4 linked regions of the Homo sapiens genome follow. The protein of the gene in region 1 interacts with the protein of each later gene in a pairwise test. Each region holds a gene or a part of one and is shown in the gene's direction. Other genes may lie near its edges.

Region 1 (3,500 bases):
TTATGGTTACTCAGAATCTGTGCCCGTATCTTGGTGTCAGTGTATTTGTTTGCCTCATAGTATAGTTTACTACAAATGGAAAACTCTAGGATTCTGCATAATACTGGACAGAGAAGATGTAAATATCTGTTAGTTCCATCATAGACCCTGCCACTCCAATGTACACACCAGCTTTAGGCTTCTTGGTATAGATAAACATACATTTTCAAAATTTTTCATCATAATTTTCATAACAAAATAGGAAGGCAAATGATGTCACTTGGCTTAAAATCTATAATATTTAAAATAAACAGGACAAATGCATTAACATTGTTGGGGGAGGAGGTCCCTTAGTAGAAACACTCTTGGTCCAAGCATTTTAAAGCTGTCAAAGAGATGTAAATATAGATAATGTATGTCAAGGAGAGAGCTTTGTGGTTAAACTGTAACTTTCAGTTTAAACAATTATTGGTGACTCTGATGTCAAATGTTTCTCAAGCTTTATCTGAACAAAATTCTTCTCACTTTGTTGCCAAAGTCGTTAACAAGAAATCACATTGACTCATTGATGTTTTGGCTCCTTTCCCTTACTTTCTGTTGCTTTCCAAAAGCTGAGACAGGAAACTAACCCTAACTGAGCACCTGCAATTGCCTGGTAGTATTCTAGTCATGTGTGTACTTTTGTGTGTATGTAATCCCCTTACAGCTCTGCAAAGTAAGAATTGTTCTCCCTGCTTTACAGAAGAGATCATAAGATAATTGAGGCTGTTAGATGTTAACTTGCCAAAAGCCATACAGGAAAATGGTAGAGTCACAGTTTGAACCAGGTCCTTTTGATTCTTTACATTAAACCATGCTTTGATCTTGGAAATACACTGTAAGGCAATAAATCAATAGATACGGATAATTCACAGGCTTCTAAATAAATGGAAGTTGATTGTTTTTATCTGTGAGCCAAAGTAAGACTTATTCTAAGAATTCCACAAATTTAGATAAGATAGAGTATATGGCTTCTAGACATCCAACATAGAACTGAGTTTGTGTTATCAGTTTAAGATTTGGTTTTGCTGTAAGGTGCACACACTTTGAGGAACTAAAAATAATTGTCTGTTCTTATTCTGATCAGAATGTGTAATGTGTTGTCCAGTTTTGGATGATGAATTTCTTATTTCTAATCTCATAAGAAACTTGTCATAGATGTGAGGGAGAGAATTAAGAACAGAGTGTGGGGAAGAAACTGTGTACATTTTGATGGGATCCATTATGTAGCTCTTGCATACTGTCTTCAAAAATAAGTTACACTATAAAGGTTGTTTTAGACTTTTAAAGTTTTGCCATTGGTTTTTAAAAAAATTTTTAAATTGGCTTTAAAAATTTCTTAATTGTGTGCTGAATACAATTTTCTTTATTACAGAAGTACCAACAATTACATGTATAAACAGAGAATCCTATGTACTTGAGATATAAGTAAGGTTACTATCAATCACACCTGAAAAATTTAAATGTTATGAAGAAATTATCTCATTTCTATTAATATGGGAACTGTGTCTTCATCTTTATTACTGTTCTAAGGTCAACTCAATGTAGATTTTACTTGCTTATGGTTTCATATTTTAGCTAAATAGTAAAATAATATGGATATACATTTTGTTGTGACTTACTCATACTTTCCTTATTTGGAACTTTTATGAATATGATATAGAGACTGAAACTACAAGGAACAAAATGCAATATCAATTATACAGTTGTGGCAGCACTGCTATCAATTTGTTGATAGTGGTTAACACTTAGAAAAACATTTTAAAAATAATTTCACATAAGTAATGTAATTTATTAGCTGTCTCTGACATTTTACAGTTTGGAATAGTTTATTTTCTTTTTGGTGTCCTCACCAAAACCCAACATCTTCAAGGGCAGGAACTGTATAATTTTTGCCATTGTATTTTGAGCACATAGCATGGTACTTGCCTCTAAATAGATACTATTGTTAAAATATTTTTTAAGGTAATATTTTAAAGTGTATGCTATGGTACAGTTCAGTTTGTGACTTTTGCTAGTTTATGCCACTTACAGTTAGCAAAATCACTTCAGCAGTTCTTGGAATGTTGTGAAAAGTGATAAAAATCTTCTGCAACTTATTCCTTTATTCCTCATTTAAAATAATCTACCATAGTAAAAACATGTATAAAAGTGCTACTTCTGCACCACTTTTGAGAATAGTGTTATTTCAGTGAATCGATGTGGTGACCATATTGTAATGCATGTAGTGAACTGTTTAAGGCAAATCATCTACACTAGATGACCAGGAAATAGAGAGGAAATGTAATTTAATTTCCATTTTCTTTTTAGAGCAGTATACAAAGATGCTGATTTGTATTTATTAGACTCTCCTTTTGGATACCTAGATGTTTTAACAGAAAAAGAAATATTTGAAAGGTATGTTCTTTGAATACCTTACTTATAATGCTCATGCTAAAATAAAAGAAAGACAGACTGTCCCATCATAGATTGCATTTTACCTCTTGAGAAATATGTTCACCATTGTTGGTATGGCAGAATGTAGCATGGTATTAACTCAAATCTGATCTGCCCTACTGGGCCAGGATTCAAGATTACTTCCATTAAAACCTTTTCTCACCGCCTCATGCTAAACCAGTTTCTCTCATTGCTATACTGTTATAGCAATTGCTATCTATGTAGTTTTTGCAGTATCATTGCCTTGTGATATATATTACTTTAATTATTATTATACTTAACATTTTTATTTACTTTTTGTGTTAGTATTTTATTCTGTCTTCTCCTTAGATAGTAACCTTCTTAAGAAAATATATATGCTAAGTGTTTTACTGGTTTAATATGCTTAGACTACTCATCTACCTCAATACTTCCTTGGAGATCTCCTCCTCAGTCACACAGAGCTCAGGACTTATATTTCCTTGGAACTCCTGTTAGGGTCCAATGTACATGAAATTCCCTAGACAGACAGACAGTCAGTTATATGGCTTGATTTCAAAGTTTCAAAATGATTTAATGGACTATCAAGTAGTTTATTAGGAGAACAGTTATTATACTCTTCTAAAAATAAAGACTTTAAGCAATAAAGATGTATATGTATATAAAATGGCTGGGTTATTCCTAGAAGTACCTTTCTTAGAATTTAGTTAAATTTAATATCCAAGATACTATCTTTTCAACCCTGAGATTGTGAAAAGTAACTTCTATCAATATAAACTTTACTACATTTGTATTGTGTTAGTGTGTTACAGTATAATCTAGAACAATGTGTCTTTCTATATGATATATGACATTTTAATGCCTAAAAAAACTGATATGTCTTAGATGATTCTAGTCAGGATTTACTTCTAGAATAGATTAAAATTCTATTTGAGGAGAGTCAAATTAATTATCGAATTCTCAGTTGTTATTATTGCTGTTTTATTTTTAGTGAAACAGATTAGTCTTAATGTAAACACTTGAGAAATAAATTGATGGTCAACCTAAAATGTAAAAAAGAAATTAAT
Region 2 (3,500 bases), on another chromosome or scaffold:
GCAGTGAGCCGAGATCATGCCACTGCACTCCAGCCTGGGCAACAAGAGCGAAACTCTGTCTCAAAAAAAAAAATAAAATAAAATACAGATGAAATTGTACTTAGATCATGGGTCGGTGGGGAGAATGTAAAGAGGTAGCACATGAGAAGGTGGAGCCCGTGCTGGCAAGTGGCAGAAGTGTCACGGGTTTGAGTTTGGATTTGCAGCCTCCTTCTTGAGCTGCTGGACCCCAAGTGTTAGAGCCCAGGTGCTTACAATCTCCGGGGCTCAGCCTCGTGGGTAGCAGAGGATAGGCTGCTATCCTTTTTCTGAGATGGAGTCTTGCTCTGGAGTCACCTGAATGCCCCTTGAGCTCTTCCCACACCCAACCACTGGCAAGGCCTGGAGCATCTGCCCCATGGCTGTGTCCTGGGTCACCCGCAGCCCCAACGCACGGCCTTACCCTGCCTCGGCCTTTTCTCCACAGCGGCCAGCACGCCTGCACACCAAGCCGTCCCAGGCACCCGCCGTGGAGGTGGCGCCTGCCGGAGCTTCCTACAATCCATCCTTTGAAGACCACCAGGTACACTGCCCCGTCCAGGCCTCCCTCCTCAGTGGGCTCTGCCTCTTGGTCAGGCCTTCACTAGCTTCCTCCCTGTGCTGGGAACTCCAATGACCCAGACAGCCCTGGGCCTGTCCGCAACGGGGCTCACGGTCCAGTGCAAGAGACCTGTTCCCAGACAGTGATGGGCAGAGTGGTTGGGGCTGGGAGCCCAGACGGGGCACCTGGCCCAGCCTGGGGGGTCAGGAAGGGCTCCCGGGAGGAGGGGTCGCCTGAGCCGAGGCAGAGGCTGAGGGAGGGGTTTGCAGTGGGAGGAGGGGAGTGGGTTTTCCAGGTGGTGGGAACAGCACTGCAAAGGCACAGAGTTGAGAGAGACCGTGGCGCCTTCCAGGAAGCCTGTGGGGCAGAGATGAAAAAGGCTGTGGTGACACGGTGGCACACTGGCAGCCAAGTGACAGTTATATATGGGCGAGGCTAGCTCAGCGATGGGAAAGTCTAGCTGGAGCCACTGTGCATTTAGCGGGCATCTGTTGAGCACAGATGCTGTGGACAAAGGGGACAAAAACCCCTCCCTTGGCCGGGTGCGGTGCCTCACACCTGTAATCCCAGCACTTTGGGAGGCTGAGGCGGGCAGATCATTGGAGGTCAGGAGTTGGAGACCAGCCTGACCAACATGGTGAAACCCTGTCTCTACTAAATACAGAAAATTAGCAGGGCATGGCAGCACGCATCTGTGGTCCCAACTGCTTGGGAGGCTGAGGTGGGAGGATTGCTTGAGCCCAGGAGGTCCAGGCTGCAGTGAGCTATGATCGCACCACGGCACTGCAGCCTGTGTAACAGAGCGAGACTCAAAAAACAAGCACAACCCTCCCTCAAGGAACAGCCCTTCTCATGGGGTCACGTGACTGGAGAGATGCTGAGATGTTTGCGGTAGATGCAGGACCGCTTGTCCGAATCGTTTTCAGCATTCATAAGAAGGAGATAGCTAGCCAGGAACAGAGGCAGCTTCCTCATCTGGTAGAGAAAAGTGTCTGCGGAAAAAAGCAACAGTGTGCTCATGGTTGAAAGCGTGAGGGTGCCGCTCACTGCCATCTGTTCCTGGACCAGATGTGGGAGGGGGCGTGGAGATCAGACATTCACTTTTAGATTTGTACAGAACTACTTCGTAGAGATAAAATTCACTTAACCATACGGTCAGCCTAGTTAGAGTATGTGATTCAGTGGCTTTTAGTGACCATTGTGTAACCATCCCCGCAGTCAATTTTAGAACATTTTCACTGTCCGTAAAGGAAACCTCACACATGTCAGCCATCACCCCCGCAATTCCCTGTCTCGTGTGGTCTTGGGCTGCCAGGCTTCCTGTCTCAGGGACCAGCCCACCCTGACCAATTCACATAGATGAAACTGTGGGCCGGGCATGGTGGCTCACACCTGTAATCCCAGCACTTTGGGAGGCCGAGGTAGGTGGACCACCTGAGGTCAGGAGTTCAAGACCAGCCTGACCAACATGGAGAAACCCCATCTCTACTAAAGTTACAGAATTAGCCGGGTATGGTGGCACATGCCTGTAATAGTAGCTACTCGGGAGGCTGAGGCAGGAGAATCGCTTGAACCCAGGAGGCGGGGGTTGTGGTGAGCTGAGATCACACCATTGCACTCCAGTCTGGGCAACAAGACAGAAACTCTATCTCAAAAAAAAAATGTGAAGCGTGCAGGTCAGACTGCCTTCACAGACGTGCAGAGCAGGTGTGAGGGCGAGGGTTTGAGGTGCCCTCTGGCTCTGTGCAGGGTGGGTGTGCTGGTAGACGGGGTGTGGGGAGGAAAGCCTGGGCCGGGGCGGGATCCACGGGCACTGGATGAGGGACAGATGGGAGGTAAGAGGGTCTAGTCTCAGTGTCCCAGGAGGGGTTCAGGGACCCATCCTCACTCCCGCCCCTCAGACCCTGCTCTCAGCGGCCCACGAGGTGGAGTTGCAGCGGCAGAAGGAGGCGGAGAAGCTGGAGCGGCAGCTGGCCCTGCCCGCCACGGAGCAGGCCGCCACCCAGGTGAGCCCCGCACCTGCCCACTCCCTCCCCTCCCCGGGCCTCCTACCCACCCCTGACACTGCACCCCGCCTCCCCAGGAGTCCACATTCCAGGAGCTGTGCGAGGGGCTGCTGGAGGAGTCGGATGGTGAGGGGGAGCCAGGCCAGGGCGAGGGGCCGGAGGCTGGGGATGCCGAGGTCTGTCCCACGCCCGCCCGCCTGGCCACCACAGAGAAGAAGACGGAGCAGCAGCGGCGGCGGGAGAAGGCTGTGCACAGGCTGGTGAGCGCCTGGGCCAGCGGGGCCTGCCTCTGATGCCTCGCCCCCTTCCTTCCTTCCTCCCACCATGGGCTGCCCTGGGTGCTGCGGGCAGCCTGCACACCCCAAGCCCCGCATGTGGCCTGTGGTTTGGGCTGTTTGGGATCCTCACAGCTGAGACTCATTTCCCAGCCTCTTCCAGGCAGGGCTCGGGCTGGGGTGGGACAGGGTCCCTGGCGCTTCTGTTTGAGGGGCGGGGTGGGGGGAGGTTTCTGCACCGCAGACCAGGGGAGATGGATGACAAAAGGGGCTTCAGCAAACAGCTGCTGGGAAGGCACTGGAGGGGCCGCTGATGTGACGGGGTTAGGAAGGGCCTCCGGGGACAGGCAGGTTTGTGCAGGGAAGGCTCCCTGTGTAGAGAGAAGGTCTCCCTGTGTGGGCAGCACCGGCCTGAGCCCTGACCCTCCCCCGTCTCCACAGCGGGTACAGCAGGCCGCGTTGCGGGCCGCCCGGCTCCGGCACCAGGAGCTGTTCCGGCTGCGCGGGATCAAGGCCCAGGTGGCCCTGAGGCTGGCGGAGCTGGCGCGGCGGCAGAGGCGGCGGCAGGCGCGGCGGGAGGCTGAGGCTGACAAGCCCCGAAGGCTGGGGCGGCTCAAGTGAGAACCAGGCCGGGGGTTC
Region 3 (3,500 bases), on another chromosome or scaffold:
TTTCCTTGCTTACAGTTGTCAGGATCGTGTATACGCAATAGTACAAAATTACTGTAATCACAAACCAGGCGGCAATATTTTATTTGCATCAGAAGGTCTGATTCTGGCATTTCACTCGCCTATCTTTTGAAGACTGCAAATTGAACCAAGTTTTCTTAGATCCTGTGAACTCTTGCTCAGAGTTACATAGCCAACCAGTGTACCTATTTTTTTTTTTTGAGACGGAGTCTCGCTCTGTTGCCCAGGCTGGGGTGCAGTGGTATCATCTCAGCTCACTGCAACCTCCACTTCCTGGGTTCAAATGATTCTCCTGCCTTAGCGTCCTGAGTAGCTGGGATTACAGGCATGTGCCAGTAAGCCCGGCTAATTTTTTTTTTTTTTTTGTATTTTTAGTAGAGACAGGGTTTCACCATGTTGGCCAGACTGGTCTCAAGCTCCCAACCTCAGGTGATCCACCTGTCTCGGCCTCCCAAAGTGCTGGGATTACAGGCGTGAGTGACTGCACCCAGCCCAGTGTACCTATTTAAGAACAGAGAAAACTTTCCACTTTTAGCAAATGGAATATTGCCATTTATTCCTGAAGAAAATTGTCTGTGTTTTTAATGCCCTATGGCCGTTTCTCCACACCAGCTATTCCTGTGGTAGGCTTTTTCTCTCCAGGATCATTCTAACATGATTTTATAGGAATGGTCATAAGAGGAGGGCCCATCACTTGCTGCTTATTCACACTGCGTATTCATCCTAGAAAAATGCAGTGTGCCGGGCATGGAGACCCCTTATTTTAAACTTTTATTTTAGGTTCGGGGTACATGTGCAGGTTTGTTATACAGGTAAACTCTTGTCACAGGGGTTTGTTGTACATATTATTTCATCACCCAGGTATTAAGCCTAGTACCCAAGTGTTATGTTTTCTGCTCCTCTCTCTCCTGCCATCCTCCCTCCCCGCTCAAGTAGACCCCAGCGTCTGTTGTTTACCTCTTTGTGTTCATGTGTTCCCTCATTTAGCCCTCACTTACAAGTGAGAACATGCAGTATTTGGCTTTCTGTTCCTGCATTAGTTTGCTAAGGATAATGGCCTCCAGCTCCATCCGTGTTCCTGCAAAAGACATGATCTCATTCTTTTTTGTGGCTGCATAGTATTTCATGATGTATATGTACCACATTTTCTTTATCCAATCTGTCATCGCTGGGCATTTAGGTTGATTCCATGTTGTCGGTATTGTGAAGAGTGCTGCAATGAACATTCATGTACATGTGTCTTTATGGTAGAATGATTTGTATTCCTCTGGGTGTATTCCCAGTAATGGGATTGCTGGGTCAAATGGTAGTTCTGTTTTTAGCTCTTGGAGGAATCACCATACTGCTTTCCACAAGGGTTGAACTAATTTACACTCCCACCCACAGTGTATAAATGTTCCCTTTTCTCTGCAACCTCGCCAGTGTCCTGTTCCTGTTGGAAGGGCTTGAGGTGTTGCCCAGAGAGCCACTGACTGCAGCCACTGCATTTCTGACTATTTGATATCATTGTTTTGGGAAGTGAGTCTTTCCATTTATCCTGCTCTCAGGGTACCTGGGCAGCTGCAGGATGATCTTACCCGCAGGGAGCAATGATTCATCCTCAGGGACTTTGGCAGTTTTTCTTGTGCAAGGGCAGCTTGCACTCCCAGGTCAAGGGTATTAGTGCCCTCATTGCATCTAATCTCAGGTTTCCCAGGTCAGATCTCCCTCCCTTTTGCCACTGTGATTTCTTCCTATTCAAATCATGAATCATAAAGAGGAGCTCACGGAAAATCTTTTTATAGAAATGGACGTATTATTTCTATGCCTGCCTTTCTATTTTGGAGGCAGGGAGAAGGGGAAGATGCAAGGCCGGGTCACAGCCGGACAGGATGGGGGCTCTGGTGTCAGCCCTTACCTGCATTTAAAACTGAGATAGCTTTTTCTGACACAGTAAAAAATAATTTGTGCTTTTCAAGAAGTGGAATGTGACCAGGCGTGATGGCTCACGCCTGTAATCTCAGCAGTTTGGGAGGCTGAGGTGGGCAGATCACCCGAGGTCAGGAGTTTGAGACCAGCCTAGCCAACATGGTAAAACCCTGTCTCTACTAAAAATATAAAAGTTAGCTGGGTGTGGTGGCAGGTGCCTGTAATCTCAGCTACTTGGGAGGCTGAGGCAGGAGAATCACTTGAACCTGGGAGGCGGAGGTTGCAGTGAGCCGAGATCGCACCACTGCACTCCAGCCTGGGCAAAAGAACAAGACTCTGTCTCCAAAAAAAAAAAAAAAAAAAAAAAAAGTGGAATGCATTCAAACACAAAACCGCCCTAGCTAATGAAAAAAGGTGTTATCATTAAAAATTATGACCGATTAAAGGGTGAGTTTTAATTATTCATCCAGAGGAATTAGCCACCTTTCGGCTAAAGATGACAGACAGTGGGACAGTTAATGCCTTTGCGTGCACCCCTTTCAGAGAGTGCTTAATGGGACTTGGATTTTCTTTTCTTTTTGATAGGTTGCTGAAAAGCCAGGAGTCAAAATGACTGAGCGCTTTGACTGCCACCATTGCAACGAATCTCTCTTTGGCAAGAAGTACATCCTGCGGGAGGAGAGCCCCTACTGCGTGGTGTGCTTTGAGACCCTGTTCGCCAACACCTGCGAGGAGTGTGGGAAGCCCATCGGCTGTGACTGCAAGGTACCTGCTGCGGGCCTCTGCGGGTCCCCGGCGCTCCCCTAGGAAACACGGGTTTCTCTGTGGTTTGTGCTGAAGCCCTGATCCACCACTGAAGTCTGTCTCTTGAGCCCCCTCTGAGGGGCGTGGACCCTGCGTGTAGCCTTTCGGAAGCTTCTTCCCTCTAGCGAATGTGATCTCTGCCCACAAGCACTGGGTGAGGGCCTTGCCAGGACTTTTGTGCTTAGTATCTCTAAGTACATTTTCTGTATTCTAGCAATTAGTGCCCTTATCTAACTACCCAGCTGCCTACCAATACTGGAACTTTCTTAAGGGTGGTGCTCTCTTCCTCTTGTCTGTTTGCCCCGTGGTGAGTAACGTGGAGCAGGTGCTGTGCTCAGTCAATATTTGATGAATGAATGTGTACATGAGAGAACCAGAGTTGGTTCCTGGATAAATGGGCACATAAAAGCACAAAGTCCTTGGAAGATTGTGAGCTCTTTTCCTTTAATGAGAGAAGGACAGGATTTGTATTGTTTCCTTTCAATGGGGAAATGTGTTCATGGCTCTCCTGGTATGTCACAGCGTGGTTCAGCAAAGACCACTGGTCACTTGTACCAACTGCCCCGTGGTTGAGGGTGGTGAACCCTGACCTGCGCTTCTCAGCAGACTCTTGTTCCAACCTGGATTGCTGAAGGACACCCTGGGGGACCCATCCATAGCTCTGAACTCTCTGATACCTTCACCCGCAAACGGCTTCTAAAACACTCCAGTGAAACCCCTCATGTGGCTGTCATCCTGAGTGCCGTGAAACTGGCTACAAAATGGGATTC
Region 4 (4,223 bases), on another chromosome or scaffold:
GGCTTGGTTGCAGAATATATTTAAGTTTGGTATTCTTTGTATTTTTAAAAATTTGTTTACTTTTTAAGAATTTGAGACAGGGTTTCTGCATGTTGCCCAGGCTGGCAACTCCTGGCCTCAAGCAATCCTCCCGCCTCAGCCTCCCAAGAAGCTGGAATCACAGGTGCGAGCCACCCCACACAACTAAATTTGGAATTATGAATATGGCTGAGGTCCAGAAATATTTAAATTTGGCATGATGACTAAGAGTTTGTTATAGGAGCTCAATCATTTGATAAATATTGAACATTTCCTATGTGTCAGATTGTTTTTCCCACTAGGGATGCAGAGGAGAACAAGACAGAATAGGTTCTTGTCCTCATAGAGTGTGGGAGACAGGCAGAAGACATATAATTTCAGGTAGGTATAAGTATCATAAAGAAAAAATAAAGCAAAACAAGAGAGTGCTGGGAAAGGCCAGGGAGCAGAGAGGATGACAGAGCTGTCTTAGGGTGTTCAAGACCTCTTTGAAAAGCTGATATTTGAGCAGAAGACCACAGCAAGGAAAAGTGGCAGAGACTGCTAGCTGCCTACGCATGAAATGATGGGGGAAGGAGCAATACAGAAGGCATGTAACATTTGAGAGTCTATTAGGCATCCCAAGGGAGGTGCTGCGGAGGCGGATGCATGGAGGCGGATGCGGAGGCGGATGCATGGAGGCGGATGCATGGAGGCAGATGGATGCACACGTCTAGAGTTTAAAAGGAGATCTGAGGCGGAGATACGAACTTGGGAGCTGTTAGTCCAGTTCCAGGTTCCAATTCAACGTACTTTTATCAGAGCTCACTGTGCGCCAGGGACTTGCTAGGAGATAAATGGGGTTTATCTCACCGGAGATAAATGTGGTTGCACAGCAGATGGACACACCAGCCAATGTGGTAAATAAACCCTTGGGTCCAGCTACGTTCTGCGCGCTCTCTGCCAGCACAGAGGAGCAGCGAGTCAGGGTACGGAGCGGGTAGCGTTGGGGAAGAGGTGGCCGCGAAGCGAGACAGGCCAGCGGAACGGAAAACGGAAGCACGAGACGGGGGCGTGACGCACCGGGCGCATCACAAAGAACGGCGAGAGGGCGGTGGCGCCGGGGGCACGGCTGGGCGGCTCCGCCCAGAAGAGGGCCGAGAGGCGGGGCGGTGCCCCCACCGCAGGCCCGCGGCGCCCTCTGCAGGCCACAGGCAGCGACTCACCAGTTGCCTCATCTTTCCTCTCCTCCCTCTTGGGGCTTTCCTCAGGCCACATTTTTTGTGTGTCTGGGCAGTCTCTCAGCCTCCGACTCCCGTCCCTTTCTTCCACTTCCAGGCCGGGCGTGTTAGTGTCTTCGCGGGAAAACTGCCAATAAAGTTTTTCTTCTTCTCGCTCCCAAGATCCCCGCCTCCCCTTAAGCACCGCGAGATCTGACGGCGCGGCTACCATGGCGGCGGCATTTGAAGCCTCGGGAGCCTTAGCAGCAGTGGCGACTGCTATGCCGGCTGAGCATGTGGCCGTGCAGGTCCCGGCCCCAGAGCCAACACCCGGGCCTGTGAGGATCCTGCGGACCGCTCAGGATCTCAGCAGCCCGCGGACCCGCACGGGGGATGTGCTGTTGGCGGAGCCGGCCGACTTCGAGTCACTGCTGCTTTCGCGGCCGGTGCTGGAGGGGCTGCGGGCGGCCGGCTTCGAGAGGCCCTCGCCGGTGCAGCTCAAGGCCATCCCGTTGGGGCGCTGCGGGCTCGGTGAGAGCGGGGGCCCGGGATAGGTCGGGGGGTGGGGTGGGAGAAGGGGGACCGACGGGCGGCGGCGGCCAGGCCCGCGCCGCAGCTCAGGAAGAGCCCTCGGTCGGCCCCCGGAGCAGGGCCCTGCCGGGGGCTAGGCGCTACGCTCAGTTAACTTATTTGTAAAACTAACGTGCACTATTGAACTTGAGGATAGTTAAGACCTTTTTTTAAGCACTGACAAATGGTTCTAAGTTTGAGAAGATAAACGGTAAACGTTCAGGGACTAGGCGTGTTCTCATACGTTTTTGAGAATCAACTAAAAATGAAGGTGCCAACTAGGGGAATCTCAGGAGACCCTTCTAGTTCTCTGATTCCATGTTAGCCCCTAAGTTGCTTCAGTGAGTACTGGCTAGTGATAATTGTTTTTTTCCTTCGCAGATTTAATTGTTCAAGCTAAATCTGGCACCGGGAAAACCTGTGTGTTCTCCACCATAGCTTTGGACTCTCTTGTTCTTGAAAACTTAAGTACCCAGGTGAGTTAGCTGAGAGGACCAGAGGAGGATGTGTTTTGTGGACTTTACCACAGGTCAGATGAAATACCAGTAGCTCCTCAGAGCTGGAAGTGAATTTGATGAATGATTGAGTTAAGTGGTGGTGGTGGCGAAATTTGGAATTTTCTATGCGTACCTTATTTAAATAGAATAAAGCTACCATATATGTCAATTTTGTCACTACTTGGTAATACAGACAGGGATTCTTCTTTTACTTACTGACTAGATTAATGTGAGACTTAACATTTGACTTGATTCATGGTAATGTAGTGCTCTGGCTATTGTTGGTAACTGCAGAGTTTGTTTTTTTTTTTTGAGACGGTGTCGCTTTGTCACCTAGGCTGGAGTGCAGTGGCGGATCATTGCTCACTGCAACCTTGAACTTCTGGGCTCCAGTGATCCTCCCACCCATCTTCCTAAGTATTTGGGACTACAGGTGTGTGCCACCACACCTGGCTAGTTCTTGTATTTTTTGTAGAGATGGGGTCTCCAGTGTTGCACAGACCAGCCTTGAACTCCTGGGTTCAAGCAATCCTCCCACCTTTGCCTCCCAAAGTACTGGGATTACAGGCATGAGCCACCACAGCCGGTATGCAGGTGGTTCTTAAAGCTCTGTAAATGTATCATATTGATCTCCCATCTTCCAGGTTGTCTTAGAGTGTTTCTAAGATTGCCTTACCCAAATTAGCAGGAAATTTGAGTTTGGGGATCATTTCTCCAACAAAGGTTTGTTGAGTCCGTATTACGTATAAACAGTGTGCCAGGCATTGGGGATTCAAAGATGAATTAGATGTGATTCTCATAGCCTTACTTGGTAGTTTAGTTGTTATGGCAGACTGTATTTCAAGTTCTCAGGCATTGGTATATCTGATGATGAATCTTCAACAGTGGTTTTTAACCCAGATATCCATGTTCATCACCTGGGAAGCTTTTTGAGTCCATCTTATGTCTACCAAATCCTAGGTGATGTTGCACATTGGAAATCCTCCTACTTCCCAAGAACCTGAGTTAGTCTAATTGTAGACTAAGATGTATTTGAGATTTTGGCTTCTGACAATTTGGCAGCAGATAAAATGCTGAAATCCTGGAAAAGTTTCATCAACTCATTTTTTTTTGAGACCGAGTCTCACTCTGTTGCCCAGGCTGGAGTCAGTGGCACAATCTTGGCTCACTGCAACCTCTGCCTCCCAGGTTCAAGTGATTCTCCTGCCTCAGCCTCCCGAGTAGCTGGGATTACAAGTGTGCACACCACACGCCCGGCTAATTTTTTTGTATTTTTAGTAGAGACGGTGTTTCGCCATGTCGGCCAGGCTGGTCTCAAACTCCTGACCTCAGGTAATCCACCTGCCTCAGCCTCCCAACATGCTGGGATCACAAGTGTGAGCCACCATGCCCGGCAAATTCATATTTTTAATTTCAGATCTTTGGATTATGAAAATTACATTATTCTCTGTGTGTGTATCAAAGTAATACATATTCATTTTTAGAAATAGGGAAAATTCAGAAAAATTAGGACGTACCAGAAAACAAAATCTGTAATCTTACTACCTAGAGAGAAACTGCTATTAACAGTTTTGGCATGTTTTCTCCTAGTCCTTTTTTTTTTTTTTTTTTTAAATCAATTTTTTTTTCTTGTAGTTAAGAGCACAAAGTTTTGTTTTCTCCTCCTCCAGTAGTTACATTGCAAAGTTTTTACCATGACTCTCAAGGTCTTTTGTGATCTAGTCCCTGGAGGTAGATCTCTGACCTCCTTTACTTTCCCCTGAATTCTGTCATGTGGGCCTTCTTTTTCTTCCTCAAATACACCAAGAACACTGCCATCTTATGGCCTTTCCATTTGCTGTTTCCTCTTGGTGAAAACGCTTCCCCAGGGGTCATATAGCCAGCTCTACTCTATGCCATTCACGTAGGTCTCTGCTCAAAGTACCTCCTTTGAGGAGGT

Evidence for each region.
Region 2: the proteins of CFTR (region 1) and NOP53 interact in binary tests that used the Homo sapiens proteins (3 or more experiments, as listed by UniProt).
Region 3: the proteins of CFTR (region 1) and FHL2 interact in binary tests that used the Homo sapiens proteins (3 or more experiments, as listed by UniProt).
Region 4: the proteins of CFTR (region 1) and DDX20 interact in binary tests that used the Homo sapiens proteins (3 or more experiments, as listed by UniProt).

What each region holds. Positions count from the first base shown.
Region 1 is NC_000007.14:117,588,025-117,591,524, forward strand, and holds part of CFTR (cystic fibrosis transmembrane conductance regulator), read left to right. Parts: intron 1-2,328; coding exon 2,329-2,415; intron 2,416-3,500. UniProt on the Homo sapiens protein: Epithelial ion channel that plays an important role in the regulation of epithelial ion and water transport and fluid homeostasis. Mediates the transport of chloride ions across the cell membrane.
Region 2 is NC_000019.10:47,752,046-47,755,545, forward strand, and holds part of NOP53 (ribosome biogenesis protein NOP53), read left to right. Parts: intron 1-466; coding exon 467-562; intron 563-2,481; coding exon 2,482-2,586; intron 2,587-2,663; coding exon 2,664-2,846; intron 2,847-3,302; coding exon 3,303-3,478; intron 3,479-3,500. UniProt on the Homo sapiens protein: Nucleolar protein which is involved in the integration of the 5S RNP into the ribosomal large subunit during ribosome biogenesis. In ribosome biogenesis, may also play a role in rRNA transcription.
Region 3 is NC_000002.12:105,385,552-105,389,051, reverse strand, and holds part of FHL2 (four and a half LIM domains protein 2), read left to right. Parts: intron 1-2,511; 5' UTR 2,512-2,535; coding exon 2,536-2,691; intron 2,692-3,152; exon of another isoform or gene 3,153-3,500. UniProt on the Homo sapiens protein: May function as a molecular transmitter linking various signaling pathways to transcriptional regulation. Negatively regulates the transcriptional repressor E4F1 and may function in cell growth.
Region 4 is NC_000001.11:111,754,478-111,758,700, forward strand, and holds the start of DDX20 (probable ATP-dependent RNA helicase DDX20), read left to right. Parts: upstream 1-1,423; 5' UTR 1,424-1,447; coding exon 1,448-1,748; intron 1,749-2,168; coding exon 2,169-2,263; intron 2,264-4,223.